Regions from separate parts of the Homo sapiens genome. Here region 2 is linked to region 1. The links come from fine-mapping of genetic effects on gene expression. A gene starts in region 1. The other region holds a variant in brackets. All regions are shown on one strand. Distances are between the middles of the regions. Region 1 holds the start of CDK17 (cyclin dependent kinase 17). Region 2 overlaps ELK3 (ETS transcription factor ELK3).

What was found. PIP is the estimated chance that this variant, and not a neighbour inherited with it, causes the effect.
Region 2: its variant is fine-mapped to the expression of CDK17 in whole blood (INTERVAL, PIP 0.92).

The regions. Positions count from the first base shown.
Region 1 is chr12:96,397,388-96,412,567 of GRCh38, forward strand. CDK17 (cyclin dependent kinase 17) reads right to left here and starts at 3,052. Exons shown (of 17, transcript NM_002595.5): 1 at 2,599-3,052. RefSeq lists silencers at 2,456-2,615, 2,796-2,975, 3,066-3,395, 6,709-6,808 and enhancers at 3,816-4,035, 10,307-10,356.
Region 2 is chr12:96,234,723-96,251,626 of GRCh38, forward strand. ELK3 (ETS transcription factor ELK3) reads left to right here. Exons shown (of 5, transcript NM_005230.4): 3 at 12,218-13,012. LOC124902991 (a long non-coding RNA gene) reads right to left here and starts at 874. Exons shown (of 2, transcript XR_007063414.1): 1 at 700-874. RefSeq lists enhancers at 284-1,268, 3,310-3,810. The variant C/CA (reference allele first, on the strand shown) is at 9,283.

The DNA of each region.
Region 1 (15,180 bases):
TTACTATGTATGTATCTCTTTTTGTTTTTTCATTCTGGTAACCAGAGTACATATGACAGGCTGCATTATTTCAAATACCTAACACTGAAAGTTACTTTCTGGCCTGAATCTAAGGATGAGAATGATACATTTTATAGAAGCTTCTTTTAGTACAGCAATAGGCAAATTACGATATTAACAAGACTTTAATTCTACATTTACATTTTTTTCTCATTGTAAATGTAATGTGAAACTTATAAAATACAGGAAAAAAATGTTTAATCACCAATAAATCCCACCATTCGTAAACCTTGCTACTTTTTGGTAGATTTCCATCTAGTAACACTGAAGGTTCAATTTTCTAATTCGATACTGATAAATATGCAGGAAAAAAAATCAATGGAGCCTCAATATGGCCTTTCAATAAATGTACATAAAACAACAATTATTAATTATATGACCTGTTAATTTCACAAAAGTCTCTAAAATGTTTTAAGTGGTGGAGTAGGGTAAGGAGTCCATAATTCAGACACTAGCCCTCAAACTGAAATCTCTTCCACAATGTTTGTATGTCAACCCTTTAACGGCAGTGAGCAGCAAGCTATGACTGTTCGTACAGTGATATCAACATTAATGTCTCTATATTAAACAGGCTTTGCTTTTATTTTCTTTCCATTTATACTTCAATAGTGTTTTATTTTCACTGTAAAAATAAATAATAACCTATATTTGCATAGTAATTTTACATAAGCTTAAATTCAAAGACTCCCGTTTTTTTTTAAGCCAACCATTCAAACTGTTAGTGCTTCTGGCCTATGAGATGGTTTACCAGATAAAGTAACATTCTTTATATTCCAATATTCTCTCTCATAACATAAAAAAGAATTTAAGGAATATCCCTTAGTCACATTTTCTTTTGTTCCAACCCACTGTTTATGGAAGCATGCAGATGTTAAGAGTTGCAAAAATTGAAATGACTTCATTAACAAAGCAACATCCCAACGTTTAATGTCAACTCCTCAGACTCATAAAAAAATGAAACAAAACCAATTATATTACCACTAGCAAATTTTTTCCCCTTAAAATCTAGTTTCGTCTTATTTCTAGTTTCAAGGCAAGCTTTGTCTACCCAAGGTATCAAAGGTCTTCAAATCTCATTCATTTTCTTCTGCCCAAGAGTTAAGAAAGTAAGTCTAAAACAGAACAAGCCAGATTTGTTGCTGTGATCTTCTCACACGAACGCCTTTTAAAAGAAATCTTTCAACAAAGACTCAAAAAAGAAACAGCAAAGTTTGGGGAAAGAATTGTCTGTCTTTAGGTCAAGCATTTCCTGATAAGTGACTGAAGGTCTGGCTGCCAGGAATACACTTTGCTGACCCTAGGAATGGCCAAGTCTCAAAACAAAATTTGCCTCTTCTGTATCTTGAAAGTGACCTGTTAGGACCTGATGTCAATTTGACGAAGAGGTGATAGAACATGACCAACGAGGTGTCTTTGGTGGACATATTCATGTAAAGGAGGCGAGAGCCACAGATTTCAGCTAAACGCTTTTTGCCACTTTTGCAAAAGAAAAGCTAATTGTTAACGGCCATGTGACATTATAGATCCCAGAAAAGGAAAGGGTGGGAGGAAGAGAGAGAAGTTCAAGGCAGTTCAGGGTCAGAACAAGCTCAGACATCCTGTCATTAACAAATGTTCCCCAAGCTGAAAGCAAAATACTGCTTACCCGAAAAGGAGTGGGTGAAAAGTAGGGGGAGAACGAGGGAAAAACCACAGGAGAGTCAATGTGGCAGTGTGGGGGTGACAGGAGGGAGGGAATCTGGAGCTATCCAGCTGAGTTGGGGAGCAAAAGCATCGGGCATAGCATCGGGCACAAAAATGCTGAGAAAAGCAACTGCGACGGAGACAGCACTAGGCACCCTCCTCCCCCCATTTTCCCCTCCCCATCGGTTTGCTGGGTTTCCCACCTTCCCTCTACCTCCGCTCTTGACCAACACTCCGGGGTGTGACCCGCCAGCAGGAGGCTGCCCTGATCTTTGTCTCTACCCGCTCCCACGCGCGGGCTCCTCCTCCTCCTCCGCGCTCCCCACCCGCGCACAGCGCCAGCGTCTCCAAGGAGCTGCAGGCGCCGCGACCGCCGCCTCCTCGCCCACCTCCCGCGGACCCGCGCCCCTTCCTTCCCCTCCCGGGCAGCGTCGCCTGCGCCTCCAGCTCCACCCCCGCCGAGGGGACCTTTGTGTCTCGGGGGACTTTCTGCCTCTTTCCCCTCCTCCGCCTCGCGAGGAGACCGGCCTCCCCCGCAGACCAAAGCGGCAGCGAGCACCGGAGGCGGCGGCGTCTATATCTGTCGGCGCCTCCTGGGAAGCAGCTCGCAGACACTCACACCCCACCCGAGCCCCGGAAATCCCCGGGCGACCCAAGGTCCTCGCTGGACCGGAGAGGTGACAGGCGCACGCTAGCCCCCCGCGCCGCGCCTCCTCGCTCAACTTCCCGACCGGGCCTGAGCCACCCGCGCCCCCAGTAGCCCCCGCCCCCGCCTCTGTCCCACGCAGCCTCCCGGCCCCGCGGCCGACCCGACACCAGGGGAAAGCGCGGCGCGGACGCCAGCCGCCAACTCACCAGCAAGAGCGGGGACCGCGGGTCCCGAGGCGAGGCGAAGAGAGGCGCGGGGGGAAGCTGCTCCGCGGACGCCCGCGGCGACCGGATGCAAGTCCGGGTCTCAGCGGCCGGCAGACGTGAGGCGCTTCCGAGCGCAGGCCTCCGCCGCCACAGCCGCCTTCCGGCTCTCGCCGCGGGTCCGGAGCCTCGGGAGGGGCCGCGGGTGTCTCACGCGTTGCCAAGTCCCTCGGTCAACATGGCTCCCGCGCCGACGAGCCGCGCGGACGGCCCACTAATCCCCTCGGAGCAGCCGGGCGCGAGCGCGGCGGGCGCCGACGGCGGGCTGAGACTGTCTGGCCGGGCGCTGGCTCCTTCTCCGCGGCTCTGCGGCGGCCCGCGGGGAGCTCAGGAGACTGCGGGCGGCCGCGTTCGCTCCTTGCGTGTGCGTCGCTTTCACACTCGGCGGCTGCGGATTGACGCCTCCGCCTGTTCCCCGGAGGAGAGCGAGTGCAAGAGAAAAAACACTTTTATTGAAACGATCCAACCAGCGGCGGCGGAGAAAAGCGACCGGCCGCGGGAGCTTACCCCACCCCCGCCTGAGCGGCTCGCCGGGGGCAGCGCGACCCCTGCCGGCGGCGGCGGAGGCGGGGGCGGGGCCGGCGGCCGGGGGCGGGGCCTGCAGGGCGGGGCGGGTGTCCCCGGGAAACTGCCCGCTCCGAAATGCGGGCGTCGGGGGAGCGGCGGAGGGGGCCAGGGGACCCCACCGGAATGAGTGCCTGTCCGCAGCGACTGGGGGAGAAATTATGTGAATAATTCAGCCCCTCCAACATCCCCCTGCCCCTCAACTTCCCGCTACCAAACCAAAACTCGTGCTTCAGTTATACAAGTAATTACTGTACAAGGTGTCCATGCCACAGTTCTCCACTGACTTTCTAGAGAGTCCATGTCAAAGGACCCACACTGAAAGATGTTGATGGCTGCAACTTTTCTCCTTTGTTGTGTGTGGGTACGTGGGTACTAGTGCCGCAGTCTCTCACACACACGGCATCTATTCATTTAAACTACAGTACAGTGTTTTGTATATATTATCATGTGCCCGGCAATATGCTGAGTCCTCTAAGGACGGAGAGTCTAGCTGGGATGAAAGATGATCAATAACTATCATAAAAATCTGAACGTTATGAGCGGAGAAATACAAGGTGCTATGAAAACAGAAAGGACTACTGTTGCACGGGTTAGGTTTTGTTTTCTTGGGGGAGGCGGGCCGCGAGAGGTTGGCCCAGTTTCTGCAACTGTTTTTACTTTCTCCTTTCCCAGAGGCTAAAAGCTAGTTCAGGAATGAACAGCAGAGTGGCAGTGAAGACAAACTAAAGTAATACTGACCCACTTTTTTCCACTAATAAGGATAAAAGCATAAAGTTAAAACAAACTTAAACCCCTAGAGGGAGATAATGAGAGGATTGAAAGAAGAGAGTAGGGACCGGATGTAGACAACATAAACAAGAAAAAAAAACCCACATAAAAGTCCTGTGAAGTGAGATAAATTTTTTTTCCCATGTTAACACCCGGAAGTAGAAGCTGCTTTGAAGTTTCAAATCACATTATGTGCTAAGAACTTCGGGGAATTATCTTTTTGGATTTAGGGATGAATCCTTTCCCCCTTAAAAATGCTGCATGCTGACATCTTTCTCTTATTTTGTTTGGCAAAGTTAAATGCATCTACAGTTATATCCAACGATCGTACGTGTCAATCAGGCTTTTCCCATGCCTCTAAAATTACCAGGACCCGTAAATTAGCAACAATTATGCTCTACGCGTATTTAACACTTGTTTACCAACCAAGAATGCAAATATACATAACAAGCTTTCCGTTAGAACAAGTGCGCTTTGTTTAAAAGCACTGTTAATGAGGCTTTTTAGATTTGTCCAAGTCAAACTTGGAACTTTATAATATAGCAAGATGTAGCATCATTTTCAGAGTTCTTTTTAAGTTAAAGAGAAACACTGATATTTATACAAGGCCTATTTATATGAAAGGATTTTCATATACTTGCCTCATCTAAATTAGTACTTTAGTAAATATCAAAAAATCACCAAAAAAGGGAGTCTATGAAATGGCATTCTGAGTTTCAGCATTAATACTTATACCTTCATATCATTAGATTAACATTACTCCATGAGAAATAAAAAGATTATTCTGTCTCATCCAAAGCACCCTCTCCTCTTTCTACATCTTTCATTAGCATAACAAAGAATTCGTAATTGGGAGGCTGAGGTGGGAGGATCCATTAAGCCTGGGAGGCGGAGTTTGCGGTGAGCTGAGATTCTGCCACTGCACGCCAACCTGGGTGACAGAGTGAGACACCGTCTCAAAAAGAAAAAAAAAAGACGAATTCATAATGAAAACTTAGGTGATTATTTGATTGATTGGTTTGTTATTTCTTTTTTTTTTTTAAGACAGAATTTTGCTCTTGTTGCCCAGGCTGGAGTGCAGTTGCGTGGTCTCAGCTGACTACAACATCCGCCTCCCAGGTTCAAGCGATTCTCCTGCCTCAGCCTCCCAAGTAGCTGGGATTACAGGCATCCGCCACCACGCCCGGCTAATTTTTTGCATTTTTAGTACAGACAGGGTTTCACCCTGTTGGCCAGGCTGGTCTCAAACTCCTGACCTCAGATGATTCACCCTCCTCGGCCTCCCAAAATGCTGGGATTACAGGCGTGAGCCACCGTGCCTGGAGGATTTGTTCTTTCAATGAAAAAAAAAATTACAGATTGCACAATATTTATTTCATTACTTTTCATATTTATTTATTTATTTATTTATTTAAATGAGATGGAGTCTCACTATGCCGACAGCCCAGGCTGGTATTAACTCCTGACATCAAGCAATCCTCCAACCTCGGCCTCCCAAAGTGCTGAGACTACAAACAGGAGCCACCACCCCTGGCCTATTTATTTATCTGTTTATTTATTTATTTTTAGAGGGAGTCTTGCTCTGTCACCCAGGCTGGAGTGCAGTGGCATCATCTCAACTCACTGCAATCTCCATCTCCTGGGTTCAAGCAATTCTCCTGCCTCAGCCTCTTGAATAGCTGAGATTACAGGTGCCCATCACCACGCCCGGCTAATTTTTGTATTTTTAGTAGAGGCGGGGTTTGGACATGTTGGCCAGGCTGGTCTCGAACTCATGAGCTCTAGTGATCCAAAGTGCTGGGTGAGCCACAGCACCCAGCCCCATGGCCTATTTAATTACTTTTCTAAACCGATTTAAAATTTGGCCAGGCGCGGTAGCTCACACCGGTAATCCCAGCACTTTGGGAGATCGAGGCAGGTGGATCACTTGAGCTCATGAGTTCGAGACCAGGTTGGCCAAAATAACAAAACCCCATCTCTACTAAAAATACAAAAATTACCCAGGCGTGGTGGCAGGAGCCTGTAATCCTAGCTACCCAGGAGGCTGAGGCAGGAGAATCGCTTGAACCCAGGAAGTGGAGGTTGTAGTGAGCTGAGATCACACCACTGCACTCCAGCTTGGGTGACAGAGCAAGACTCTGTCTGAAAAAAAAAAAAAAAAATTATATGTAATATTGTGAGCATGTTAGTTGTTTTTTCCGTAGGTTGTAATATAGGCTTTTTTTTTTACCTTGTAAAACTATGTTAAATTATAAAATTACTTAGAATATTTCCCTAACTGTCATTAATAGATATTCCATAGTGCTTAGTGGAGGAGAAAGATTGAGGAAGAATTCCAAGATCAAATCCACTTGAGGAATGCCACATACTTTATCTCCCTTTTGGAAATTCACAATATACATTTACGTATTTAAGGCTCTTAGAAGTTCTGAGATTGAAAAATAATCTTCTTTCCAGTGAAACAAGTATATCCCAAAATGTTTTCACCATAGAATAGCTATATCATGTGACATATATAAAAATATTGAGGGGAGAAAATTTTGAAGGTCATTGAACTTTGGACAAAGAGAGTTAAATGTGGTAAGTCCAGAAAATCTTTGCTGGGATTCACATTCTGAAAATGACACTGTCTGGGAAACAAATATGAAACTTTCAGGTAAGATACAAACAAGAAACACTTAAGCTGGTTTTCAATTGCTCTACATCAGTGGTTCTCAGCAGTGTTACCTGGGAATTTCTTAGAAATGCAAATTCTCAGTTCCCGCTCCAGACCAACTGAATCAGAAACTCTAGTGTGGGGCCCAGCAAACTGTTTACAGAGATTTTCTAAGATTCTGCTGAACAATAAAGTTTGAGAATCACTGCTCTATACAACATCAATACATAGCTTTGTTTACAAAACAATTTTCCATATGTCTGAATTTCTGGACTATTTCTAATTATTTCATATTCCTTAAAAATTCTCAAAGAAATTAGATTACTGACCAAATAGAAAAAACACTTTTTGTCTGGGTTCATTCCCTGTTTTACTAGGCTGAATCATATAGGAAGTCTGTGTGTTTGTTTGCTTGTTTTGCAAGAAGAATAAAGCAAATTAAGCTAAGGACAGCAATCAACAATTTTCCCCCAATAGCAAAATAATTTTACATTTGGCAAAAATGAAGCTGTAGGCAAGAAAGGAGTTTTGTCAAAGGCTTTTTAAAACCTGCTTCAAAAATGAAACATCTAGCCAGGCCTTAACATTTATTTTTAATATTTTGTACCATCCCAACACCTGCAAAACAGCTATATACCATTGCATAATGATACAGTTGTACCCTGTCACTTAAAGCTTAATGGTAGAGATTTTACAGAGCAGATCTATTTGATATTATCAGAATACCTCCATAGATTTACAAGTTACAAATTTGGGGAGGGAAAATTTCTTCCCTATTTACATGTAAAATTTCAAATTTGGTGTACCAGATTTAACCCTAGAGGATGAATAACATCTGAGACATTTGGTCTCGTCCAGGGAGCGTTATAAAAAGCTTTCAGCAGAGTGATGTCATGTGTCCTTACAAGGGAAATGAATCCAGGAACCAAACTGAATCTTGGCAGTTAAGGGGGACAAAATTTTCAAACATTTTATTTTGAAATGAAAGTTTTCTCTAGTTGCTGACAAAATGCTTAGGGAGAGTTAGTTTCCAGGCTTCCAGTAAGACTGCATACACGTCTCTATTATGAGATTAAGATGGGATTAACTAGTTTTTTCTTCATTTCTTTTTTAAATGTAATATCAATACCTCTTAACTAGATTGATGTTCTGCCTCTGAGAAAAACCAGATGTGGGTCTTAATCAAATACAATACATTTAAAGTTTATTTGAGCTTTTTAAAAAAAAATGAAGCATAACATGAAGCCATTGTTTTTTGTTTTTGTTTTTGTTTTGTTTTGTTTTGTTTTGAGATTTTGAGATGGAGTCTCGCTCTGTTACCCAGGCTGGAGTGCAGTGTCACAATCTCGACTCACTGCAACCTCCACCTTCCAGGTTCAAGCAATTCTCCTGCCTCAGCCTCAAGAGTAGCTGGGACTACAGGTGCCCGCCACCACGCCTGGCTAATTTTTGTATTTTAATAGAGACGGAGTTTCACCATGTTGGCCAGGCTGGTCTCGAACTCCTGACCTCTAGTGATCCACCTGCCTCGGCCTCCCAAAGTGCTGGGATTACAGGTGTGATGAAGTCATCTTTAAGCTTTAACAAATGTCTTGCTTAAAAAAAAAAAAAGTTGGAAAGTGGGAACTGGGGCAGTATAGGTTTTCCCTTCTTAAGCAGGTTGAGAAGAAGAAGAATGTGGCAACTGGCCATTTCCCCAGGAGCTTGTGGGAATTATCACTATCTTTTTTCATCTTTTCATCTTTTGTTTCTTTTGAGACGGAGTCTCCCTCTGTCACCCAGGTTGGAGAGCAGTGGTGTGATCTCGGCTCACTTCAAGCTCCGCCACCTGGGTTCTAGTGATTCTCCTGCATCAGCCTCCCAAATAGCTGGGATTGCAGGTGACTGCCACCACACACAGCTAATTTTTGGTAGAGGCAGGATTTCAGTATGTTGGCCAGGCTGGTCTCAAACTTCTGACCTCAAATGATCTGCCCACCTCTGCATCCCAAATTGCTGGGATTACTGGCGTGAGCCCCCTCGCCTGGCCTTTTTCATCCTTTTTTTTTTTTTTTTTTTTTTTTTTTTGAGACAGAGTTTCACTCTTGTTGCCCAGGCTGGAGTGCAATGGTGCAATCTCGGCTCACCACAACCTCTGCCTCCCAGGTTCAAGCAGTTCTCCTGCCTCAGCCTCTCAAGTAGCTGGGATTACAGGCATGCATCACCACGCTCAGCTAATTTTGTATTTTTAGTAGAGATGGGGTTTCTTCATGTTGGTCAGGCTGGTCTCAAACTCCAGACCTCAGGTGATCCACCCGCCTTGGCCAACCAATCTGCTGGGATTACAGGCGTGAGCCACCGCGCCTGGCCTTTTCATCCTTTTTTTTTTTCCTTTTTTTGAGATGTAATTTTGCTTTTGTTGCCCAGGCTGGAATGCAATGGCGTGATCTTGGCTCACTACAACCCCCACCTTCCGGGTTCAAGAGATTCTCCTGCCTCAGCCTCCAGAGTAGCTGAGATTACAGGTGCCCACCACCATGCCCGGCTAATTTTTGTATTTTTAGTAGAGACGGGGGTTTCTCCATGTTGGTCAGGCTGGTCTCGAACTCCTGACCTCAGGTGATCCACCCGCCTCGGCCTCCCAAAGTGCTGGGATCACAGGTGTGAGCCACTGTGCCCGGCACCTTTTCATCCTTTTAATGGGAGAAGGGAGGGATGGTTTGTCATCTTTGAAATCTGGCCCAGTGATATGCTTTTAGGTAAGCTGATAGGACTGATTTGTAGTCTTCTAGTATTAGTAGTTCAGAAGTGCAAATTTCAGTAAACTAACTTTGCCTTGCCCTAGCCTACATGACTCCCAGGACCATCCTAGAATTGATATGATCTGTGAAGAAGACTAGAGCAAATATTTGGAATATAGATATTGGAAAAATGGAAAAATAAAAAACGAGGAAGAGGGGAAAGAAGACAAAAAAGGTAAGAAGCAGGGAAAAGGGAGAATTAAGTCTTATACAAGTTTTATTTCAGCAATAAGAAAGCTGCAGATGTTGTTAGTGTTAAGCTTCATGTAATAGAAAGAAAGAGTAGAAAAGCATAAATTAAGCAGGTCAGGGTTCTAGCCCTGAAGGAACATTGCATAGTAATAGGGCTTTGCAATCAGTTGGATTGGATGGGAGTCCTAATTTTGTCACCATGAGATTTTGCTAAATTACTTAACTAAAAGTTTCTCCATATGTAAAATTGGGTTAACAGTTTACTTGCCAGGTTGTAAGGATTAAATAAGATAATGAATGTAATGCATTGTATCTCAAGTTTTTCTGTTGTAAGTGACATGAATAACAACTCAAACAATACAGAAAGGGGATTTTGTTGTTGTGTGATTGAAAAGACTAGGGGCCGGGTGTGGTGGCTCACGCCTGTAATTCCCAGCACCTTGGGAAGCCGAGGTGGGTGGATTACCTGAGGTCAGGAGTTCGAGACCAGCCTGACCAATATGGTGAAACCCCTTCTCTACTAAAAATACAAACATTAGCTGGGCATGGTGGCATGCGCCAGTAGTCCCAGCTACTCAGGAGGCTGAGACAGGAGAATTGCTTGAACCTGGGAGGTGGAGGTTGCAGTGAGCTGAGATCACGCCACTGTACTCCAGCACAGGTGACAGAGCAAGACTCTGTCTCAAGAAAAAAAAAAAAAGACTAGGGATGGCGCAGACTTTAAGGTCATCTTAGCCAACAGCTGTCCCGATGTCATCAGAACCTGGTTCCTCTCCTTTCAGTTCTGCTTTTGGTGGCCTTGGCTCTCCACCCATTAGGTCAAAAGATGTCTGTAATATTTATAGCTCTAAGCTTCTAGGTTCAAGTCCCAAAGGAAAAAGGGAGTAACATCTTTAGTAGCACAAATATTAGCTTTATTTAGCTCAGCTTAAATCACTGACTGTCACTGTGGCCAAGGCAGATGAGTGATTGGCTAGGGCCTGGACATATGCTTAACCCCAAAGACAGGGTGGAGTCTGCCTCAGCTGAATCACATGTGCTGAGAGTATGGGAAGGGCGGTCCTCCCAAAACAAGAAACAGGTGCTTTTACCATAACTAGGGTGGTGGATGCGGGGCACCCACTTAATTAAAATGCAGGAAGCCAGGGATGAGTGGGCTTTATCACTAGCCAGATTCAGGAAGATTGTCTTTCATCTGGGCTTCTGTCTATGTGCCAACCTCATTCTTTATAAGTTCACTGACAGCTCTGAGATCACACCTTCACAGTTCCTAATCCAAGGGGAAGGAGGTCCATTTAGAAAATTCCAAGGAAAGACTCTGATTGGCCTGCATCATACTAATCAGAAGGGTCCCACCAGACTACATGGAATGGGGAAGACGCAGTTGTCCAAAGGAGTGGAGGGTGCTTCTAGCAGAAGTAACAGGTGTGGGGTGGAATGCACGACGGTCAGAAACCACTGGTGTCCACTATACATGGGTAAATGCCAAGGGCATAATCAGAAATTGAAAATCAGAGAGGGCCGGGCGTAGTGGCTCATGCCTGTAATCCCAGCACTTTGGGAGGCTGAGATGGGCAGATCATTTGAGGTCAGGAGTTCGAAACCAGCCTGGCCAACATGGTGAAACCCTGTCTCTACTAAAAATACAAAAATTAGCCTGGCATGGTGGTGGGCGCCTGTAATCCCAGCTTTTTGGGAGGCTGAGGCAGGAGAATTGCTTGAACCCGGGAGACAGAGGTTGCAGTGAGCTGAGATCACACCACTGCACTCCACCATGGGAGGCAAAGCGAGACTCCGTCTCAAAAAAAAAAAAGAGAAAAAAAGAAAATTAGAGAAAGTATAAATTTTGACAAGTATAGGAGGGCAAAACAAAAAAAGGGACAAGTGAAGGGATAAACAAGTTGATACTGTAGGATACTACTCAGCAATAAAAAGGAATGAATTACTGATACATCCAACAACATGGATGAATCCCAAAATAATTACGCTGAGCGAAAGAAGTCAGACCAAATAAAGAGCACACACTGTATGGTTACATTGTTATAAAACTATAGAAAATGCAAAATATAGTGACAAAAAGCAGATCAGTGGTTGCCTGTGTCTGAAGAAGGGAAGGATTACCAAGGCGCATGACACTTGTGGAGGATGACAAATGTGTTCTCTTTTTTAAATCATTGTGGTGATGGCTTTATGGGTGTACACTTATCAAACTGGACACTTTAAAGATGTGCAGTTTATTGCATGTTAATCTTTCGGTTAAAAACAGAAAGAGAATGGGATCCAAAACACTGTGCTGTTTAATGGCCATTTGAAACCACTGTATTATCTGACCTGTCTGTACAAGCCTGAATTTTTCAAAACACACTGTTAAAAATGTGGGCTTTCTGTAAGTATATCTATATAGAAGTCACATCGCTTAACCCATAGTTGGTTTCTAGCCTCAGGGTCAAAGAAGAGGTTAATATAAGCTATAAGTATACTTTAAAAATACTTCTTTTTTCTTTTTTTTGAGATGGAGTCTTGCTCTGTCGCCAGGCTGGAGTATAGTGGCATGATCTTGGCTCACCACAACCTCCATCTCCGGGGTTCAAGTGATTCTCCTGCTTCAGCCTCCCAATTAGCTGGGATTACAGGCACGTGCCACCACACCCAGCTAATTTTTGTATTTTTAGTAGAGAGGGGGTTTCACCATGTTGGCCAGGATGGTCTCGATCTCTTGACCTCGTGATCTGCCTGCCTTGGCCTCCCAAAGTCTGGAATTATAGGCGTGAGCCACTGCGCGCCCAGCCAAAATATTTTTTTTGACATTTTATCTCTGTAGTGCAAGAGTGTAGCAGTGGGCAACAGTGAGTGAGGCGTGCCTGAAACCTACTTAACTCTATGTAAAATATTGACCTGGTAAATCCAGGATATCCTGTTAAAGCAGACTGTAATATGCAATAAATGTCAGTTCCCTTCTCCCTCTACTTCCTCAATGTGGAAATAATCTGAAAAGTTTGAGATATTGTTCCATCTCATGTGTGTATTTAATGTAAATTTGCCTCTTTTTATATTCCTAGTCTGAACTGTAGATCATCTGTGCAATTAAAGGTGCTTTCCTTCTAGGCAGGGAGAAAATTGCCATTAGGTAGGATATCTTATTTCTTTGGGCACCCTGATACTCAAAGTCATTAGATAAATCACAATTAAAATTGTTTTCTTGAGCTCATAACAATTACTCATCCTTAAATTCTAGTTTGATTGGAAGGCATCAGAAGTGCTGATGCCTTCTGCAAATGCAAAGACATTTCCAAAGACCACTTGTGTTGTTTACAAGATCATTTTCTTATAGTGTTAAGAAAAAACACTTAGTAATGTAATCTGTTTAAAAAGATTTTTGAAGAATCGTGGTGTGTAATGAAAAAATAAAAAATAAGATAAAATAAAATAAAAAGTTATTTTACATGTTGGGATCATTCACATCATTTTAAATGAACCCACTGATAAGGTAGTCAGTGCCTGTCTGTGCATCATGCTTTATTCCTTTACTACTTTCTATCAACTGCTAGGCATGATGGAATAAAATATTTCAGGCCTTTTTTATTTCACATAAATGTTCTAAAAAATTTTAGCATGATGCAGCAGAATATAGAATTCAAAGTGGGACAGGTGTTGTGGTTCATGCCTGTAATCCTAGCACTTTGGGAGGCCAAGGTGGTAGGATCGCTTGAGGCCAGAAGTTCCAGACTACCCTGGGTAACATGCCAAGACCTGGTCTCTAAAAAAGAAAAAAAATTAGCCTGATGCAGTGGCTTGCACCCGTAGTCCCAGCTACTCAGGACATTGAGGCGGGAGGATCACTTGAGCTCAGGAGTTCAAGATTACCATGAGCTATGATTGTGTCACTGCACTCCAGCCTGGACAGCAGAGTGAGATTCTGTCTCTAAAAAAAAAAAAAAAAAATAGTGAAAGGAACCTGAGCCTGGGTTTAGATCTGGGCTCCACCATTAATTGTAAGATATTGAGAAAGATAGTTAATCTTCCTGAGCTTCAGTTCCTTCATATGTAAAATGTTTGTATCTCATAGGGCCTTTCATGAGGATTCAACATGACACCAAATATAAAAGTGCCCACCAATAATTGGCACTTTACAGGCAATGAGTAAACGTTAGTGTTCTTCCTTCCACTCCCGCACACCATGACTGCAAAAGTCATGGAAAAAAATACTTTGAAGAAAATGCATCTAGGAAGGCAGAGTTTATAATGCTCAAAAGAAGTCATCTGTCTTCTATGGAGATGCACTACAATATTTAGCAAAAAGTAAAGCAGAAAAAGAAACATTTTTTGCTTGAAGATTTGCAGCCCCATTTAGGCCAAAAAAAAAAATCTATGTTTATTTCTTAGTGTATTATTCATCATAAGTATTACCTAACATTCGGAATATGAAGGGTCAGTAATAGCTACTGTGAACAAAATACATGTCGTTTGTGATCTGAAAAGATTCTCCTGTAAGGGGACCAAAGCACCTGAACCACAGATTCTTATTTACCTGCTTTCTATAACCTGTATTTACAAGTACAGCTATAAATCTAAATTTATTTTATCGGAGGAACTCAAACAATTTTAGGATTGGAAACTAGAAGTTATCTAACTGTCATATATACTTTTTTTGAGACAGAGTCTTGCTCTGTTGCCCAGGCTGGAGTGCGGTGGTGAATCTCAGCTCACTGCAACCTCCGCCTCCTGTGTTCAAGCTATTCTCCTGCCTCAGCCTCCCAAGTAGCTGAGACCATAGGTGTGCGCCACCAAGCCCAGTTAATTTTTGTATTTTTAGTACAGACAGGGTTTCACCATATTGGCGAGGCCGGTCTCGAACTCCTGACCTCAAGTGATCCACCCCCGGCTTGGCCTCCCCAAGTGCTGGGATTACAGGCATGAGCCACCGCACCCGGCCTCATATATACTTTTCAACTACCATTTCCTTCAAGAATTCCTTCAAACAATTTATATTTCATGTCTACAATGAACCAGGCACTGTAAATAATGGAAACATGACACAGGCAATGTCCCAGTCCTCAAAGGGCTTAGTGTCTATCGGGGTGAAGAAGGTCTGGCCATAACTTAAAAAGAGCTAATAGCCTAAGATAAAAGTTTGAATATGCTGCTCAGTAGAAGAGGGGGACTTCTAGCTGGGAGAAGTGGTAGGAGTAGGAAACCAAAGCAGGTTACATTGCTTAAGAGACAAGTTGATGAGCACTTACTGGTGCCTAATTAGGAATCTAGCATTGAGTGCTATAGAGAATGCAGCAGTACCTTAAGTGGCAATCCTTGGCCTCAATGAATGCATAATATGTAGTTTGACCAAATATCTTAGCACAAAGCAGAATTTGGAAGGAAGTCAACCTATTTCTATTCGTTCTATAGCTTCTGACATATTTACTTCAAATGTTAATTGTTTATTAACAGTAAAACTACATGCAAGGTTTTTTATTTGCTTACCTGAGAAACACTGCCTTTCTTTTTGTATCTGATTCCTGCCTTTTGCTGTTTTGCAAACTGAATATCTCAGCTTTTTCCTGCAGG
Region 2 (16,904 bases), 160 kb before region 1:
CCATTGTAGAGGTGGGGATGCTGAGTCTCCAAGAGGTGTAAGTCACGGACTCAAGATGCAGCAGCAGGGCGGTGGCAGAGCTTTCAGACTAAGAGTGTTGACCCCCAAGGCCCATGCCTGGGCTTCCAAAGCTGGAGGGCGACACAGCTCCAGAGCCCTGGGCCCAGACTTGAGTCCTGTATGCCCAGTACTGCTGATGATTACCCCAAGGGCAGCCAGGGAGGAGAGACAGGCCCCCGGTATTTTTTAATTGAAATGACAGTGGAAAAACTGCTGGCAAGATTATCTGAGTCAGCTGAAAATGTGAGTTTGAGTGGCCCCGGAATACCCCACGCTTCCAGAAGACGCTTCCTATGGAAAGTACTGGAGCGTGGCACTCCTCTGCGTGTGCGCCTCCCAGCTCTCGGCGGCCTCCAGGAAGGAGTCCAAACTCCCTTCACCATCTCACCCCAACCCAACTGCCTTCCCTGCACCCCCACAGCCGCCCCCCACCCCAGCATCTTCTCAGGCCCCCTCCTTCCCCCTGCCCTTCTTGCCTGGCTCACTCCTGGCCACCCTTCAGACTCCTCTCTCTGCCTCCTCCAGCTGGCGCCTCACTTGGTGATGGCCGTGTCTGTTCCATGGCCCCTCCCAGAGGGACTTGGTTTCTCCTGCTGTCATTGCGTCTCCCTTACGGGGCCGCATGCTGGGTTTTCTTACCATTTCCTGCATCCTGCAGAGCCGAGGGCGTGGCAGCACCAATCAAGTGTAGTAGGAATGAGTAGGAAACAAGCATCCTTCTCCATGGCACAGAAGGGAGTCTGTCACCTTGGAAAGTCACTCAAGAGAGGATCCAAGAAAGCGTCTTGCCCTACCTACCCCTCCTTTAGCAAGTGAGGATCTTCGAGGGGAGGGGAGTTTCCAAGTCAACTGGTGACAAAGCCAGGATGAGAAGACACTCCCAGACCACCTGTGGCTAATGACACACACTGCCCGGCCATGCCATCTGCCAGCGCTGGAGGTGGCCGCTCAACACAGGAAGGTCAAGGTCAGTGTTAGCAGCTCCCCCACCCAGCAGGGGAAAGGGAAAGACTTGCACTGGGGAGCAGTTTTATTTATTTTTATTTATTTATTATTAATTATTTTTAGATGGAGTCTTGCTCTGTCACCCAGGCTGATGCAGTGGTGAGATTTTAGTTCACTGCAACCTCTACCTCCTGGGTTCGAGCGATTCTCCTGCCTTAGCCTCCTGAGTAGCTGGGACTATAGGTGTGCCACCATACCCGGCTAATTTTTGTATTTTTAGTAGAGATGGGGTTTCACCATGTTGGCCAGGCTGGTCTCGAACTTCTGACCTCAGTTGAACCACCTGCCTTGGCCTCCCAAACTGCTGGGATTACAGGTGTAAGCCACCACCCCGCCTGAGCAGCTTTATGTTCTATGTTATTAACACTTAAAAGGCCTTTGAATAAAAGTACCCTTGAGTGTTTAAGGAGAGCCAGGAGGGAGACAGGACTCCAGGTCCAGCCAGCAGCAGCGCCCAGCCAAGAAGGCAGGGAGAAAAATGCTGCGAACGTCCAGTCGAATCCTCCCGGGTTGGGGTGTCCTGCCAGGCCAGCAAGCCAGCACTTCTCACTAGCACCCTCAGGGTGCCACGTGTACTCAGGCAGCAGGGATGAAGAGCGCCTCAACTTCAGGCTGGCCAAATTTGGTGAGATAGTTCACGCTGCAGTTTACCGGTGCCAGAAAGCAAAGAAACCTCAACCCAAACCACAAGAAAACCTCTCCCGGGAGCCGACAGAGTTGGCCTGTTCAGAGACAGAGTTCCAGCCTTTGTTGGCAGCACGTCATTCTTAGAAGTCTGGAATGGGTGTGAGTGGGTGTGTACGTGTGTGTGTGTGCACACTCCAAAGTTCGGCTTTGCACAAGGGACAGCCTAGGCTCCACCTTACCCGGTGCCTGTACCATCGCAGTGGGAAGGGCTAGTTGCACCCCAGTGGCGGCCCCAGGCTGTGCCTCCTCTGCCTCGCTGAACAGAGACAATTTTAAGAAAGGGGTGTATTAGTTTCCCAGGGCTGCTGTAACAAATGACCCCAAACTTGGTGGCTCAAAACAATAGAAATGTATTCTCTGAAGGTTTTGGAAGACAGAAGTGTGTAATCCAGGTATCTGCAGGGCCCCGCTCCCTCTGAAGGCCCTAGGGAAAAATCCCCCCTTCCTCTTCTGGCTTCTTGTGGGCTCCAGCCACCCTTGGTGTTCCTTGACTTGCAGCTGCCTCACTCCAGTCTCTGCCTCCACGTCCCATGACCACCTTCCCTGTGTGTGTCTTTCTGTGTCTTCATGAGGACAGAAGCCATTGATTTCAGTGCCTACCTCAAATCCAGGATGATTCTGTCTCGACATCTTTAACCAATTACATCTGTAAGAACCCTGCTTCCAAATCAGATCACATTCTAAGGTCCTTGGTGGACATGAATTTGGCAGGGACATTAAACTCACTGCAGCGGTGGGTGGGGGAAGATTGCCTTGGTGAGAAGCAGCTCAGGTTTATGGGTCAGAGGAGCCCTTTCATAAGATGCTCTTAAATAGCTGGGTGTGGCGGCTCACGCTTGTCATCCCACTACTTTGGGAGGCCGAGGTGAGAGGATCGTTTGAGCCCGTGAGTCCAGGATCATAAGATGCTCTTTAGTGGGGGTGGGTGTGAGGTGAGCCTGCCCCCCAGACATTTGTAGCAGAGTCTCTTATGGCCAGCTGACTGCTCACTGTCCCCTCTGCTTCAATGGCAGAGACAGAGCAGAGGCAGGGGATGTCACACTGCATCCAAGCCACTGAGGGGCACTTCAAGGACAGAAGCTGGCTTCACTCCTTCTCCATTCCTCAGAGCCTGGCATGGGGCCACCCATAGGAGAGTGTGTATTCAGTGTTCACTGAAAGCCAGGTGTGGTGGCTTGAACCTATAGTCCCAGCTACTTGGGAGGCTGAGGCAAGAGGACCGCTTGAGCCCAGGAGCTCCAGGCTGCCGTGTGTAACAGTCGTGCCTGTGAATAGCCACTGCATTCCAGCCTGGGCAATGCCAGCAAGACCCCATCTCTAAAAAACAAAAACAATGTTTGCTGAAAGAATGTTTGCTTGTCGGAGAGATACAGTAACTACTTGTTCTAACTTTGGAGAAAGGACACTTCGGGTTTCATGTCAGGAAGGAGTGAGTCAGACTGTGGTCTGGAAGGGAACCCAAAAGCAGGAGTTGAAGAAAATGTGTTGGCCAGGAAGCCGCGGCCTGGAGATACTCCTCTGCTACTTGTGGGTGTTGTGAACTCAGCTGGGAGCCTCGGGTCTCACATCTGTGAAGTGGGTATCAAAGCGTTGTGAGGCTAACATGAGATTTTGTGTGAGCCTTCTGTAAACTGTAAAGTAAGGTGCCCACCCAAGAAATTTTCCTGGAAGGCAGAATAAAATGAAAAGTGTGATATAATGAGCAGTGTGTACGATTAGATTATTGCATGCTAAGCAAGATTCACTGGGTGAGGGTCATGTTGTAAGGACCTGTGTGAGTGAGGCACTGACTGCGTTGAGTCTTTAGAAAAAATTAGCCTATGGGGTATTTTTATTCCCATTTTAGGGGTGAGCAAACTGAGCCCCGTGTAGATGTTCAGTAACTTTCCCAAGGTCATAGTAAGCAGAGAGGCTGGAATTCAAACCCAGATCTGTTCACCCCAGCACTGGGTCCACATGACTTCTGGCCCGTCAAGGCTCCTGGCCTGTGCCCTTGTGTGAGCTGCTGCTGGGCACGGGCCTGGAGACAGCCGGGGGAGCTTGGCAGTGGGTGCCATCACCGGGCTGTATATGGTGGACACGAGCTTCCTGTTGTTTTCCTGTCACCCTCGTCCCTTGGATGGCATGCCACTTATAGTTTGGCTGCTCATGTCCAGTCTGCTGCACTGGGAGTGCTGGGTCCCCCGTGCCTCATGTTAGGGTGTCCCTCCAAAGCAGGCACCTTCTCTACCCTGTGGATTGGCAGAGGCAGTTCTATTTCTAGGTAATGAATGGACCTTACGGAAGATTGGTCTCTTCCGCCCGAAGAGCTAGAAATAACTGTTCTCAAGCAAGGCCCATGCTTTCTCAGCACAGAGCTGGTTTTCCCAGGCACTCTGCAGTTAACCCCACTATTACTCTGGAATGCAGAGACCCCTTGGCCCTGTCGGATTTACTTTAGTAGCAGCCTCTGCTTCCAAATGCAGCTGCTTTCTGGAAGAGGGTGTGGTAGTGGAACAGAAATGGCTTAGGTCTTGGCACTAGATACAATTGGGTTCAAACTTCGGCTCCACCAGTTACAAGCTGTGTGACCTTGGGCTAGTCAGCTTTTTAGTTCCTATTTCTTTCCCTTAAAAAGTCTTAATTTGACAAGTAATACATATCAAATATACATTCTTTAATGTGAAAATACACATAAGCAAAAAGAAATATGAAAAATCACTGTTAAATTTTAGTATACCTCTTTTAAGATTAATTTTTCTACCTCCTTTTATTTACACATATATGCATATATACAGTAGAAAACATATAAATATATATGCAATAGAACATTTTTAAAATAATGGAATTATTCATACTGTTTTTTTTCCCCACCTAATGTATATTTAAAGGTATGGGGAAGTGTTAGCAATGTCGTGTCCCCTGAAGTAGCTACGTGGTATTCCATTGTATGGCTCTCCCAATATTTAACCTACCCCCAGGTGGTGGACAGTTGGATATAACCTCACTGTCCAGGGGGACCTTGGCTTCTCCATCTCTGCAATGGGATAACAGTGCCCATCCTGCAAGGCAGCTGTGTGTGCTCAGCATGCAGCTGGCCCTCATAAATGCTGGCTTCTTTCCTTGTCCTTTCTCTGTACTGGTTCCTTTCACGTAGGGTATCTACCACGATAAAATGAGTGTGCCCCAAATAAATGCATTGTCTCGTGTGTCTGCTCAGCACCTGAACAGGTTCCTGCCTCGGGTCTTGCTGACAAGTGCGCAGGGCCAGCAGCTTCCCGTTGGCCTCTCCCAGGAACCCTGAGCAGAGGCCTGAGCCCAAGCAGACGCTGCAAGGCTGCTCTTCTCCCTCCCAGTCTGGGCAGCATGGTTTCTGCTCTGAGAAGCCGCCGGGAGCAGTTGAGATGAGCTGGGTGCCTGGTTAGTGTCTGCACCACCTTTCGGGGCCTGACATGTGGCGTCTCGCCTGTAGGCTGCGGCCAGCATCTAAGCGGAGCACTTGGATCTAGCAGTTATTCACATCTGCGGCTCCGTGTGTCCCCCTCCTAGAACCTCCCCACAACCCCCAAATTAATTGGATTGTGTAAGGTTTTCGTCACAGTGGATGTCAAGTGCTGGCCGTGTTAGGCACAATATAATATAAGCCTTGTATCTATTTCTTGTCTGAACCTAACTAAATAAAAACATCATGTTTCCCTGCTCAGTTGAGATATGTAAACCAGATGTAATTCTGCCTGCTGTGCAACTGATCATGTTACCCAGAACTTTGGACAAAGCTAGCAGAATATGCGCAGCCTTCTGTGAGGGTTAATTTTGTCTATTAAATTGTCATTAGGGCTGACACAGGGTGATATTTATGTTTTGTTCTGTTTTTGCTTAAATGGGAGTGTAAAAATGATGATAATACTAATAGCTAGTATATGTTATGGGGCTTGTCATGCGTGGATGCATCGGGCGTTCTGATAGAAGCTGTATATGGATGTCTCATTCAGTCCCATGAGGCAGATGGATCAGTCCCCATTTTATACATGAGAAGCTGAGGCATTGAACTCAGGCAGTGACTCTGGAGCCTCTCCTTTTAATCCCTGCAGCAGTCTTTGTGATAGGGTCAAGTGGGTATTTATTGGAAAGGTCCCCTGCTCTGTCCCCCTTACCCAGTGCAGGGGTTAAGAAGGGCCTGTTTGTTAGGAAAAGTCTTCAGCACAACCGATCCTGCTTGCTTACTGAGCTGCTGACATTCTCAGTTTTGAGAACGAGGTAGGAGAGTTGCAGAATCAGAGGGCAGGAGCGCTGTGTTTCCAGGGTGCCCTGAAATGGCAGAGGATCCAGGGGCCAGACCAGAATGACGAGGAACTCGCCACAGGCCTGGCTCCTCGCGGGGAGGAAAACGGAAGATCAGATAACAAGACTAAGCACGTGAACTCCAGATGCATAACCTTGGATCAAAATTGGGGTGCCAGACCAGAGTGGGTGGACAGACACATGCAGCAAATATTTGCCACGTAAATGGATGGGTGAAATTATGGCTCATTAAGCTCTCACGGGAGGTGTGAGGTTGTATGTAGCATGTGGAGTTTGCATATGGCCTCTAATATCTGCCTGGGAGTTTTCAGTTTAAAAATGCCAGCAAAGAAGAACAAGCAGGTATATGTATGGGATACACCCACAGGGAGCTTTAACCAGCCTAAGAATGAGCCGTGGAAAATTGTGTCTTTCATGCCTGTGGCTTTATGCCTGGGTCAGTTCTCCTTATAGTTGGTAATTCATTCAACAAACATTTAATTAACTCATTTAAATATAATCCTAATAACATCATCAAGAAGGTAAATCTAATTCCATATGCATCTTTTCATTACCTAGCACTGCATATGCTTTTTTTAAATTACAAAACTTATCGAAATATTTCTCATCTATCTACTATTTGAGATTATTTACACAGACTCCTTCCTCTTCAAAGGGCACAGTGGAGCGTTTGTGTGTGTGTGTGTGTGTGTGTGTGTGTGTGTACATATGTAAACACACTGTGGACAGCCATACCTTTTCTTATAGGTAGGTATGCCTGTAACCTGTCAGGGTAACAGACAGCACTGAAATGGAAATGGAAATATGACCTGCTCTCTTGGCATTTTCTATGCAGTTAAAGTGAAATAATTGAGGGATCCTGTCACGAGATCCTGTCATGGGCTGCTGTCATGGGATGCCTTGGTCCCCAGAGGTGGCTGGTGAGTTGGGAAGGGTTCTTCTGCACAGGTCTGCCCGGAATCCTGTCCCAAAGGGACGACTTGCCCTTTAGGCTACTACTGCATTCTCAAAATGGCAACTTGGACGGGGTGAGGGATTAATTTTGGTATCTGGTCCTCCTCTTTTGCCTGGAACTGCCACTGGGCTCTGTTTGAAGGGGATGTTGCTTTTTCCTCTCACTAAAATTGGTCCCATCCTTGCTGCCCGTAACCTCACATGGAATGCCTGCCGGGCAAAGAGGCAGCCCTTTTGCAAATACGTATTTAATGGGAAATTACAAAGAGACTGGTCCCACCCATGTAAGAGGGAAGCGGATGTGTGTAACACTCTAAAACCACGCTGGAGATGCACTCAGCTCCACCCGACACAGACCAGCATCGCTCAGGTTACCAGGCAACTGTGAGCAACAAATACTTGTGAGTCTGGGATTGAAGGGGGTGGAAACCCGACTTTTTCTAAATATCCTCATCACTTACCATAATAAGAGCCCTTACCCAAGTGTGCTTGTGTCCCGGGCTGCCTAAGTTGGCCTGAATCTTGTGTCACCCTTCATAGTAGCCAAGACCTCAGGAGTCAGATTGCCTGGGTACCATCTGTTCTCTCCAGGTACAAGCTTCCAACAGTGTATAATTTATACTTTCCGAGCCTCAGCTTGCTTATCTCCAAAATGGGGATAATAATCATTCCATTCTCTAAGAGGATTGAGTGAGTTGATGGTTGACAGGTTCTTAGAAGATAGCCTGACAAATAATACGTGCTCAGCACATACTAGCTTGTATTATTCCTGACACTGAGTCTTCTCAGCAAACTCTTGGAAGGAAACTTCCCTCTGGAAGCCACAGAGAGATCTTCAAACATACATGGCGCTGCTTCTGGGGGCAGCCCTGGAAGATAAGGAAGAAGGGGCTGTCAGTGCAGCTGCAGGGACACACGTCCTCTGAGCCCAGGTTGTTCCTAATCCTCCAGCCGTGGGCACCGCTGTGGGGGGCTTTCCTTACCAGCTCCCCTCGTCTAGCAGATGTCCCCGGTGCTGAGTCACTGGGCTGCACTGCTCTGACCCACTTACTGTACCCGACCCTGCCCTCTTCCCTCCCAGTTCCACTCTTTAGCCTTCGACCCTGGCAGGTTTCCAGGTAGCCAGATCGAATCCGTCTTTCCCATTGGTCTCTAGAGAAGCATGACCTGCCTCGGTTCTTTCCAATGGCTGTCACTTCCTCCTTTTGGCCAGCTAGTAAATTGTCTCCATCCCCGTCACTGCGTAACCTTTCCCCAGAAAACTCTTGGTGTCCTCTCTGCTCCCCCAGCAGAGGCAGCAGCTACTGAAGGGCCCTTCCCAGTGTCTCCCTTTTTACATTCTGAGTAGGGTTATGACAGTTGCTTCTAGCTATAGAAAGTTCCCACTGTCTTCCACTTAAACACGTAAAATACTTAAGATTCTTATATGTTCTTTTCTTTAAAAACCAGCTTCATTAAGATAAAATTCACATACCATACAATTCACCCATTTACCATATACAGTTCAGTGGCTCTGAGTATAGAGTTCTGCACCCATCACCGTGACCCACTTTAGAACATTTTCATTACCTCCTTCCTTCCACCCCTCTCAGCCCTAGGTAACCATGCTCTACTTTCTGGTTTTTTGTATAGATATCATGATTCTGGACATTTCATATAAATGGAATCATATGTGACCTTTATCATGTAATATCTGGCTGCTTTCACTTTGCAGTGAATCATAGAATAGAATATTCTATTCTATGGCTCATGCCTATAATCCCAGCACTTTGGGAGGCTGAGGCGGGCAGATCACCTGAGGTCAGGAGTTCAAGACCAGCCTGGCCAACATGGTGAAACCCCGTCTCTATAAAAATTAGGCAGGGCGTGGTGGCTCACGCCTGTAATCCCAGCACTTTGGGAGGCCGAGGCAAGGCAGATCACGAGGTCAGGAGATCGAGACCATCCTGACTTACACGGTGAAACCCCATCTCTACTAAAAAAAATTAGCCAGGCATGGTGGCGGGCGCCTGTAGTCCCAGCTACTCAGAGGCTGAGGCAGGAGAATGGCGTGAATCAGGGAGGCGGAGCTTGCAGTGAGCCGAGATCACACCACTGCACTCTAGCCTGGGCAACAGAGCGAGACTCCATCTCAAAAAAAAAAAAAATTAGCTGGGCATGATGGTGGGTGCCTGTAATTCCAGCTGCTTGGGAGGCTGGGGCAGAAGAATCGCTTGAACCTAGGAGGCAGAGGTTGCAGTGAGCCGAGATCACGCCACTACATTCCAGCCTGGACGACAGAGCAAGACTCCATCT[C/CA]AAAAAAAAAAAAAAAAAAAATCTATGATTCTGTTTAATGAAATTGAGGCCCATTATGTTATGTTTGTTCCTTACTATTCCAAACAATATTCCTTATTGTTCTTACTATAGTCTAGTAATTCATTATTCCTCAAATAATGAATTCTAGGCCTTGGTGCAGAGCTTCATTCTTTACTACAGCTGGATAATATTCCATTGTAAGGACACCCCACATTTCATTTATCCTTTTGCTGGTTGGTGGACAGGTGGGTTGTTCCTCATGTTCTTTTTAACACAGCAAGGCCATATGATCTGTCTGAGGCTGCCTTTCAGTTCCCAACCATTTTTTGAGCAGGAGAGACATTTTCTGTCATTTTTATCACAGCCCTTGGTTATTTCTTGATGTGTTCATGAATGTAATCCCAACTTAGACATGATGTTCCAAACCTATAAGAAAATTAGAATTTTTTTTTTTTTTTTTTGGGAAAGAAGAAACAGTTATTTAAGACTTGTTAGAATAAATGATTCAGATCCTTTTTCTTCTGTGTTTTTATTTTGGCTCTAAATAAAACATTTATAGAAGTTTGTCTTTTGTGTAATTATTTAGGCTCTAAAAACTTCACTCAGTTTAGATGAGTGTTCAAACTCGCTGAGGGAAAAAAATAAAGTTTTTCCCCAGGGAGAAAAATATTATGAGCTAAAACTAAAAATAACTTAAAATTTTAGCGAAGGAAGCATTAACACACCAGGCCAGCACACTTTCTTTTTAATGGGAACTGACCCTGGGTCAGGTGGGTCCAATGACACCCTTATTTAATTTATTTCCTGCTGGGAGCTGATTTTCCTGGGCATGTTCTGACCCAGGGCACTCGGCAGAGACGCTGCTAACAAAGTCCAGGTGGAAAACATCTGAGTTTCCCAAATTTCTCTAAAGGTTTTTAAGGGCTGTTCAGCTTCGAGTAGCAGCGTGAGTGTGAGGTCGCTGGCGTAAATGAGACCCCGCGGGTTAAGTTGCAGGTGGGAGCTCCAGGATGCAGCAAGGTGGCCGCGGCCACTGGAACTGTTGTTTGGCCTTGACTCTAATCTAAGGTGCCCTGGGCGTCGGCCTGTATGCTGGTGCTCAGTGAGGTTTCTCCATGACTCTGTATGAGATCTCCTGTGCTGAATGGGACCCTTAAATGTGCCCTTCGCTGCCATCATTTAAGGAGGGAAAAGGCAAATCAGAATGTCATAATGTAAAGGATGGCAGGCAAACACATGTTTTTAGAACCACACTATGATTTCAAAAGGCACATCAACATTCAGTTGAATTTCATGTCTATTGGGGGATCTTTGATTTCTCTCCCCCTAAATTTGTGTGGGGATGTGAAAAAGCTTACGCTTTAGAATCTGTCGATCTTGGTGGTTCTTGGGCAAATGACTCTCCATCCCTGGGATCTTGTTTGTGTCAGAAGGATGACATCCTCCACCTCCATCAGGGCTAATGTGGGGATCTAATGAGGTGCCTTATGTACAACCCCTGGTACAGAAGAGAGGCACTCAATCAGAGCTGCTTCTAAAGCTCTTCTACTTGAAATGATCTTTTTTTAATCCTCACTCATACCCTGGTTTTAGGTGGAATAGTTTCTAAGGAAACAGAGTCCTTTTCCCATAGGATGGTGCTGGGTTTTTGTGCTTGAGAGAGACCATCTTTGTCTCTCTGAGCCCCTTGGACGCCAAGATGCATCCACAGGGCAAGGCACACGCAAGCATTTGGTAGGTAAATATAGAACCCAGTGGGTTCGGCAGGGAATTAAAGTATCCATTTAATAAACCTCAAGAACAGCATAGCCTTTAATATAAAGTCCCTTCTCCCAAAGGGTTGCAAAAACTTTTGCAATGATTATTGCTTTTCATTTATAGCCTAATGTTTGAGGACTGGAGCCATAAACTGAAGAGCCAGAAGTAGACGCTAGCAACTAAAAATACTGTCAATGAATGTCACAGATATCCAAAGTAGACAATTCGTTTTCCTTCCAGTGGCTTTCTTGGCAAAAAAAATAAAAATTAAAAAGGAAAAAAATGACTGAGTTAAGAAAACGTTGTAGTGTTTGATGATGATAACTTGCATTTTATAATGCTTTCCAGCTTACAGAATGCTTTCTCATTATTATTTCATTGAATTCTTCTGACTCGCAGAGGTAGGTAAGACAATACTGTGTTATGGTTCAGGACATGCTGCCTCTACCACTTCACTTCCTAGCAGGTGGTCATGTGAGTTAGGGAAGTGCTCTAAGCTTATTTTCCAAATTTTTAAAATAGGAGTCACAACACCTTCCTTTTAGGATTGCTGTTCAGATTGTATGAGATAAGATATGAATAATCCCATCCACATAGTAAAGGCTTCATAAATGGCAGCTGTTACTATGTTATTACATAGAATAATCCTCACTCGGCCAAGGTTGGGGGATTGCTTGAGTCCAGGAGTTTGAGACCAGCCTGAGCAACCAAGTGAGATGCTGTCTCCACAAAAAATAAAAATGTAAAAATTAGCAGGGTGTGGTGGCATGTACCTGTAGTCCCAGCCACTCAGGAGGTGGAGGCAGGAGGATTGCTTGAGTCCAGGAGGTTGAGGCTGCAGTGAGCCATGTTCGTGCCACTGCACTCCAGCCTGTGCGACAGAGTGAGACCCTGTCTAAGAAATCATCATCATCATCATCATCTTCCTTACTTTACAGACGAGGAAACTCAAAGTGGCACTTAATTTGCCAAAGATCACAAAGATCTAGTAATGGCAGAACTGGAATGCACATCTAATTCTACTTCCAACTTCATTCCTCCTTCCACTTTTCCTTAGCCAAGAATGTAAATCAGGAACATTTTGGTGCTTCTGCCAGCGACATTTACCATTATCATGAGCTCTTACATGGTTTCTCGGGTGCACTCAGATTTTCAACGTCTACTTTTGTATTTGCAGAACATCATCAAGAAGGTGATCGGGCAGAAGTTTGTGTACAAGTTTGTCTCTTTCCCGGAGATCCTGAAGATGGATCCTCACGCGGTGGAGATCAGCCGGGAGAGCCTTCTGCTGCAGGACAGCGACTGCAAGGCGTCTCCGGAGGGCCGCGAGGCCCACAAACACGGCCTGGCCGCCCTCAGAAGCACGAGCCGCAACGAATACATCCACTCAGGCCTGTACTCGTCCTTCACCATTAATTCCCTGCAGAACCCACCAGACGCCTTCAAGGCCATCAAGACGGAGAAGCTGGAGGAGCCGCCCGAAGACAGCCCCCCCGTGGAAGAAGTCAGGACTGTGATCAGGTTTGTGACCAATAAAACCGACAAGCACGTCACCAGGCCGGTGGTGTCCCTGCCTTCCACGTCAGAGGCTGCGGCGGCGTCCGCCTTCCTGGCCTCGTCCGTCTCGGCCAAGATCTCCTCTTTAATGTTGCCAAACGCTGCCAGTATTTCATCCGCCTCACCCTTCTCATCTCGGTCCCCGTCCCTGTCCCCCAACTCACCCCTCCCTTCTGAACACAGAAGCCTCTTCCTGGAGGCCGCCTGCCATGACTCCGATTCCCTGGAGCCCTTGAACCTGTCATCGGGCTCCAAGACCAAGTCTCCATCTCTTCCCCCAAAGGCCAAAAAACCCAAAGGCTTGGAAATCTCAGCGCCCCCGCTGGTGCTCTCCGGCACCGACATCGGCTCCATCGCCCTCAACAGCCCAGCCCTCCCCTCGGGATCCCTCACCCCAGCCTTCTTCACCGCACAGGTAAGAGTCATTCCTGTCATCTAAGCCACAGCCAGCTTCAGTGGCTTAGCAAAAAAGGAAGAGCAACTAAAGAGACTTCCTTCTGTCCCTCAAAACGTTGTCCTATGACTCGTACCGAGGTCACTGTGTAAATGTGAAGGGAAGCTGCTTTTCCATCCTCAGACCAAGGGGTGCACATGAGACAGGGTTTGGTTTGTCGACTCTAGTGGGATGCTTGATTGGTTTCTTGCTTTTAGCGGCCTAAAGTGACCATAGGTGGAACACGCACACTGGCCGACAAAGCAGATCTCACCAGCGATTTCCAAGGGAAAGTTGAGCGGGCCAGTTTACATTTCGGGAGGCGCTTGGGCTTTATGAAATTTTTATGGCAGAATCTTCTCTGGGGGCGCTTAATAAGGAGCCACTTGTGTTCTGTTAACAAGAAAATAGATGTCAACTGATGCCGCCATCGCATGTCAGTGTGGAGCTGTGGTCATAGCGTAGGTAATAAGAAACAAAGGGGCCACCCCAAACAGCTGCTTCGCTGAAAGCAGCACTACTCTGAGAAAGCCCCAGTCCACAGCACTGGCGAGAGGACAGCAAACTTGCAGAGCCAAAAAAGCCTTCGTTGTTATTAGTCCCAAAGAGAAAGCAGCCTTTTCCTTTAAATCAGATATTCAGATGCTCTTTCTTGTCCAGCTGACAATTGCAGTGCAAAGGCGTAGTAGGTGCTGGGAAACCATATTTCTCCTTCCCCTTGAAAATTGGATGCAATTTTAGTGGCAGAGGTTAAAAGAGTATTCGTTTTAGGTTCACAGACCTGCATTCAGTTCCTGGCTACCCTGCTTCCTAGGAGTGGGACTGTGGGCGGTTGCTCTCTGGGCCAGGTTCCATGTGTGGAAAATGGGACCATGGACAGGCTTTGTGAGCTGGGGACACCTGGTAGCATTGTTAACCGTGGAGCTGCACCCGTCCCCTGCCTCTGTAATCTCATCGTAGTTGTCCCTGTTGTCATTAGCAGCAGCCGCGGCAGCATATGACGGGCTCCCCACGTGTGCCAGGCACTGCTCCAGATGCTTTACATGCATTGCCTGTATCCACACTTACAGCAGCCCTGTCACGTGGATACAGGTTGAGCATCCTGTTTCCAAAATGCTTGTGACCAGAAGCATTTCAGAGTTCAGATGTTTTCAGATTTTGGAATATTTGCATGATACTTGCCAGTTGAATATCCCACATCTGAAAATCTGAAATCCAAAATGTTGCAATGAGCATTTCCTTGGAGTGTCATGTCAGGACTCAGAAAGTTTCAGATTCTGGAGGATTTGGGATTTGGGAATTTTTGGATTTGGGATGCTGAGCCTGTGCTATTATTATCATCCTGTTTCCCAGCTGAGATAAATGAGGCACAGAGGTAAAGTAGTTCGTCCAGGGTCCCACAGCCAATAGGTGGTAGAGGTGGCTTTGGATCCAGTGTCTGCCTCCAGAATCCATGCTCTCAAATGAAATGCATTCCCGCTGCGAGAAGGCAGTGTCCCTGATCACGATGGCCGTCCATGGAGCACCTGAAAGCAGCTCTGGGCCACTGTCCTCTCCACGCTTTCTCTGGACTGGATTCTGCCCAGGATTTCATGACAGCTCAAGCCTGTGAGCTGGTGGTGACGCGCGCCACTGCGGAGGGGGAGGGCCAGGGGATCAGGATATAGGTCAGAGTGAGCACGTGTGCTCTTAAATCAGGCATCTTCCAGTTAAGCAAGGCTGTCCAGTGACCAAGGGCTGCTGAGCAAATGGCTCAGAAACAGCAGCTCCTGATGTAGCTCAGGGGAGTATCTTGAGAGGCAGGGCCAGGGTAGATGATCTGAGCATCTCCTCCCCTGGCCTCCTGTGTGTTTACAACTGTCAGGGTGAGAAAGGTCCGAAGCCAGGCCAGGGCTGACTCTGATTTAGGTGTCTGTGTTCCCTGGGAGCCTGGATCACCTTCTCAGAACAGAGTGAGGCAGATGCCAGCCCTGTCTCAGAGGAAGTCAGCTCAGCCAGCCCTGTGGATAATGTGGATGGAGTGGTGGCTCCCATCGGTGGGGCTGAGGGCGTGAGAGAAGGATCAAGGGTGGATGCCCAACAAATGGATGCAGAGGGCACGACCAGGAGCCAGAAGCCACCAGCATGGCCTGAAACTAGGTGGGAAGGCGTAGGAAAGCCAGGATCTTTACAAGAGGACCTGTGCCTTAGGCAGTGAGGGTGCCTGGTCCTCAGCCAAGCTGTGAGGGTGGGGCTGTGATGATTTAGTGCCAGGAAGCCCAGAAATGGTCCTGAGGGGAGGGAGGCAACAGGCAGCATCTGGACCCAGGGCAGGAGAGTGGAAGTAAAGGGACCTGGCTCAGAGAGGGCCTTCGGGTCAAAGGAGGAGGAGGGGCACCAGGCAGTCCTCTAAACCACGCAAAACTAAGGGGGTCACCAGCTACACTGGGAGATGGTAGAGCCTCGGGACTCAGACCCCACTTTGAACTTCCCTCACATTCCCAGAGTGTGGGCTCTGCTCCTGGCATGGCCATGGGTGGCCAACAGGGAGGGAGAGAAGGGGCAATGAGGGAGACACCAGAGGGGCCCGGGTGGTAGTCAGGGGTGTGGTACTTATTCAGAGTTGAGTTCTTGCAGCCGGTTTCACCCAGGCGGATTCCCTGAGATCAGATAGGATATCTTGAAGCCAGGGGTGGTTTAGGATTAGGGTATGTCAGTGTCAGATTTGGACTCTCAGATTCCCTCCCCTGGGAGCTGCTTCAGGGGGTGCCCCAGAAACTCACCCACCAGCACCAGCTCAGTAGTTTGTCTTCCAGGTGACAGCCAGAAACAGCGTGGCTCTCAACAGCCAGGCATTCTGTGGAATTCCTTTCGGCCTCAGGAGTGAAGGACAACTGTGGGGTTCAGGGTGTTCCACAGGCAGCAGTGAGGCTTCAGTGGTTTTCCTCTTACCTGAGCACTTTGTCACAGAAACTCTCCTTTTCTCTGTGTGTGGGGGGTGTGCTGTGTGCAGTGTGATGCTGTGTGCACATAAACATTTGATAATCTGTGGGCTGTCAGCTTTGCTTAGTGGTGGGCTTTGGAAGAGGTGAAAGCTGTGTGTGCTGTAATAACCCGATACCCTGAAGGTACAAATTCCGAAGGTTGGTTATTTCCAGCTAGAATCATGGCAGGAAGAAGGGGAGAAGTAAGGGAGCCTTGGCATGGCCTGTGTCACGTGGTTACCTTATCACACCTCATACAGGCATCCCTCATTTTACTGTACTTTGCTTTATTACGTTTCACAATTAATTGGTGGTTTTTACAAATCGAAGGTTTGTGGCAACCTGGCGCTGAGCAAGTCTTGTCAGCGCCAGTCTGTTCTTCCAACAGCACACACTCACTCCGTGTTTCAATGTCACATTTTGGTAATTCTCAAACATTTCCAACTTTTTCCTTACTATTATGTCTGTTATAGTGCTCTGAGATCAGCGAGCTTTGATACTACTATTGTCATTGTTTTGGGGCACCATGAACCACACCTGTATAAGACAGCAAACTTGATCAGTGTTGTGTGTGTCCCAACTGCTCTCCTGTGTCAAACTTGATCAGTGTTGTGTGTGTCCCAACTGCTCTCCTGTGTCTCCCTCTCCTTGGGTCTCCCTATTCCCTGAAACACAACAATTTTGAAATTAGGCCAATTGATAACCCTATAGTGGCCTATAAAGTGTTCAAGAGAAAGGAAGAGCTGCGCATCTCTCATTTTAAATCCAAAGCTAGAATGATGACGGTGAAGGCATGTCCAAAACCGAGACAGGCCTAAAGCTAGGGGGCTCTTATACCAGTTAAGTATGTAAATGTAAAGGAAGAGTTCCTGAAGGAAATGAAAGTGCTACGTCAGTGAAAACATGAATGA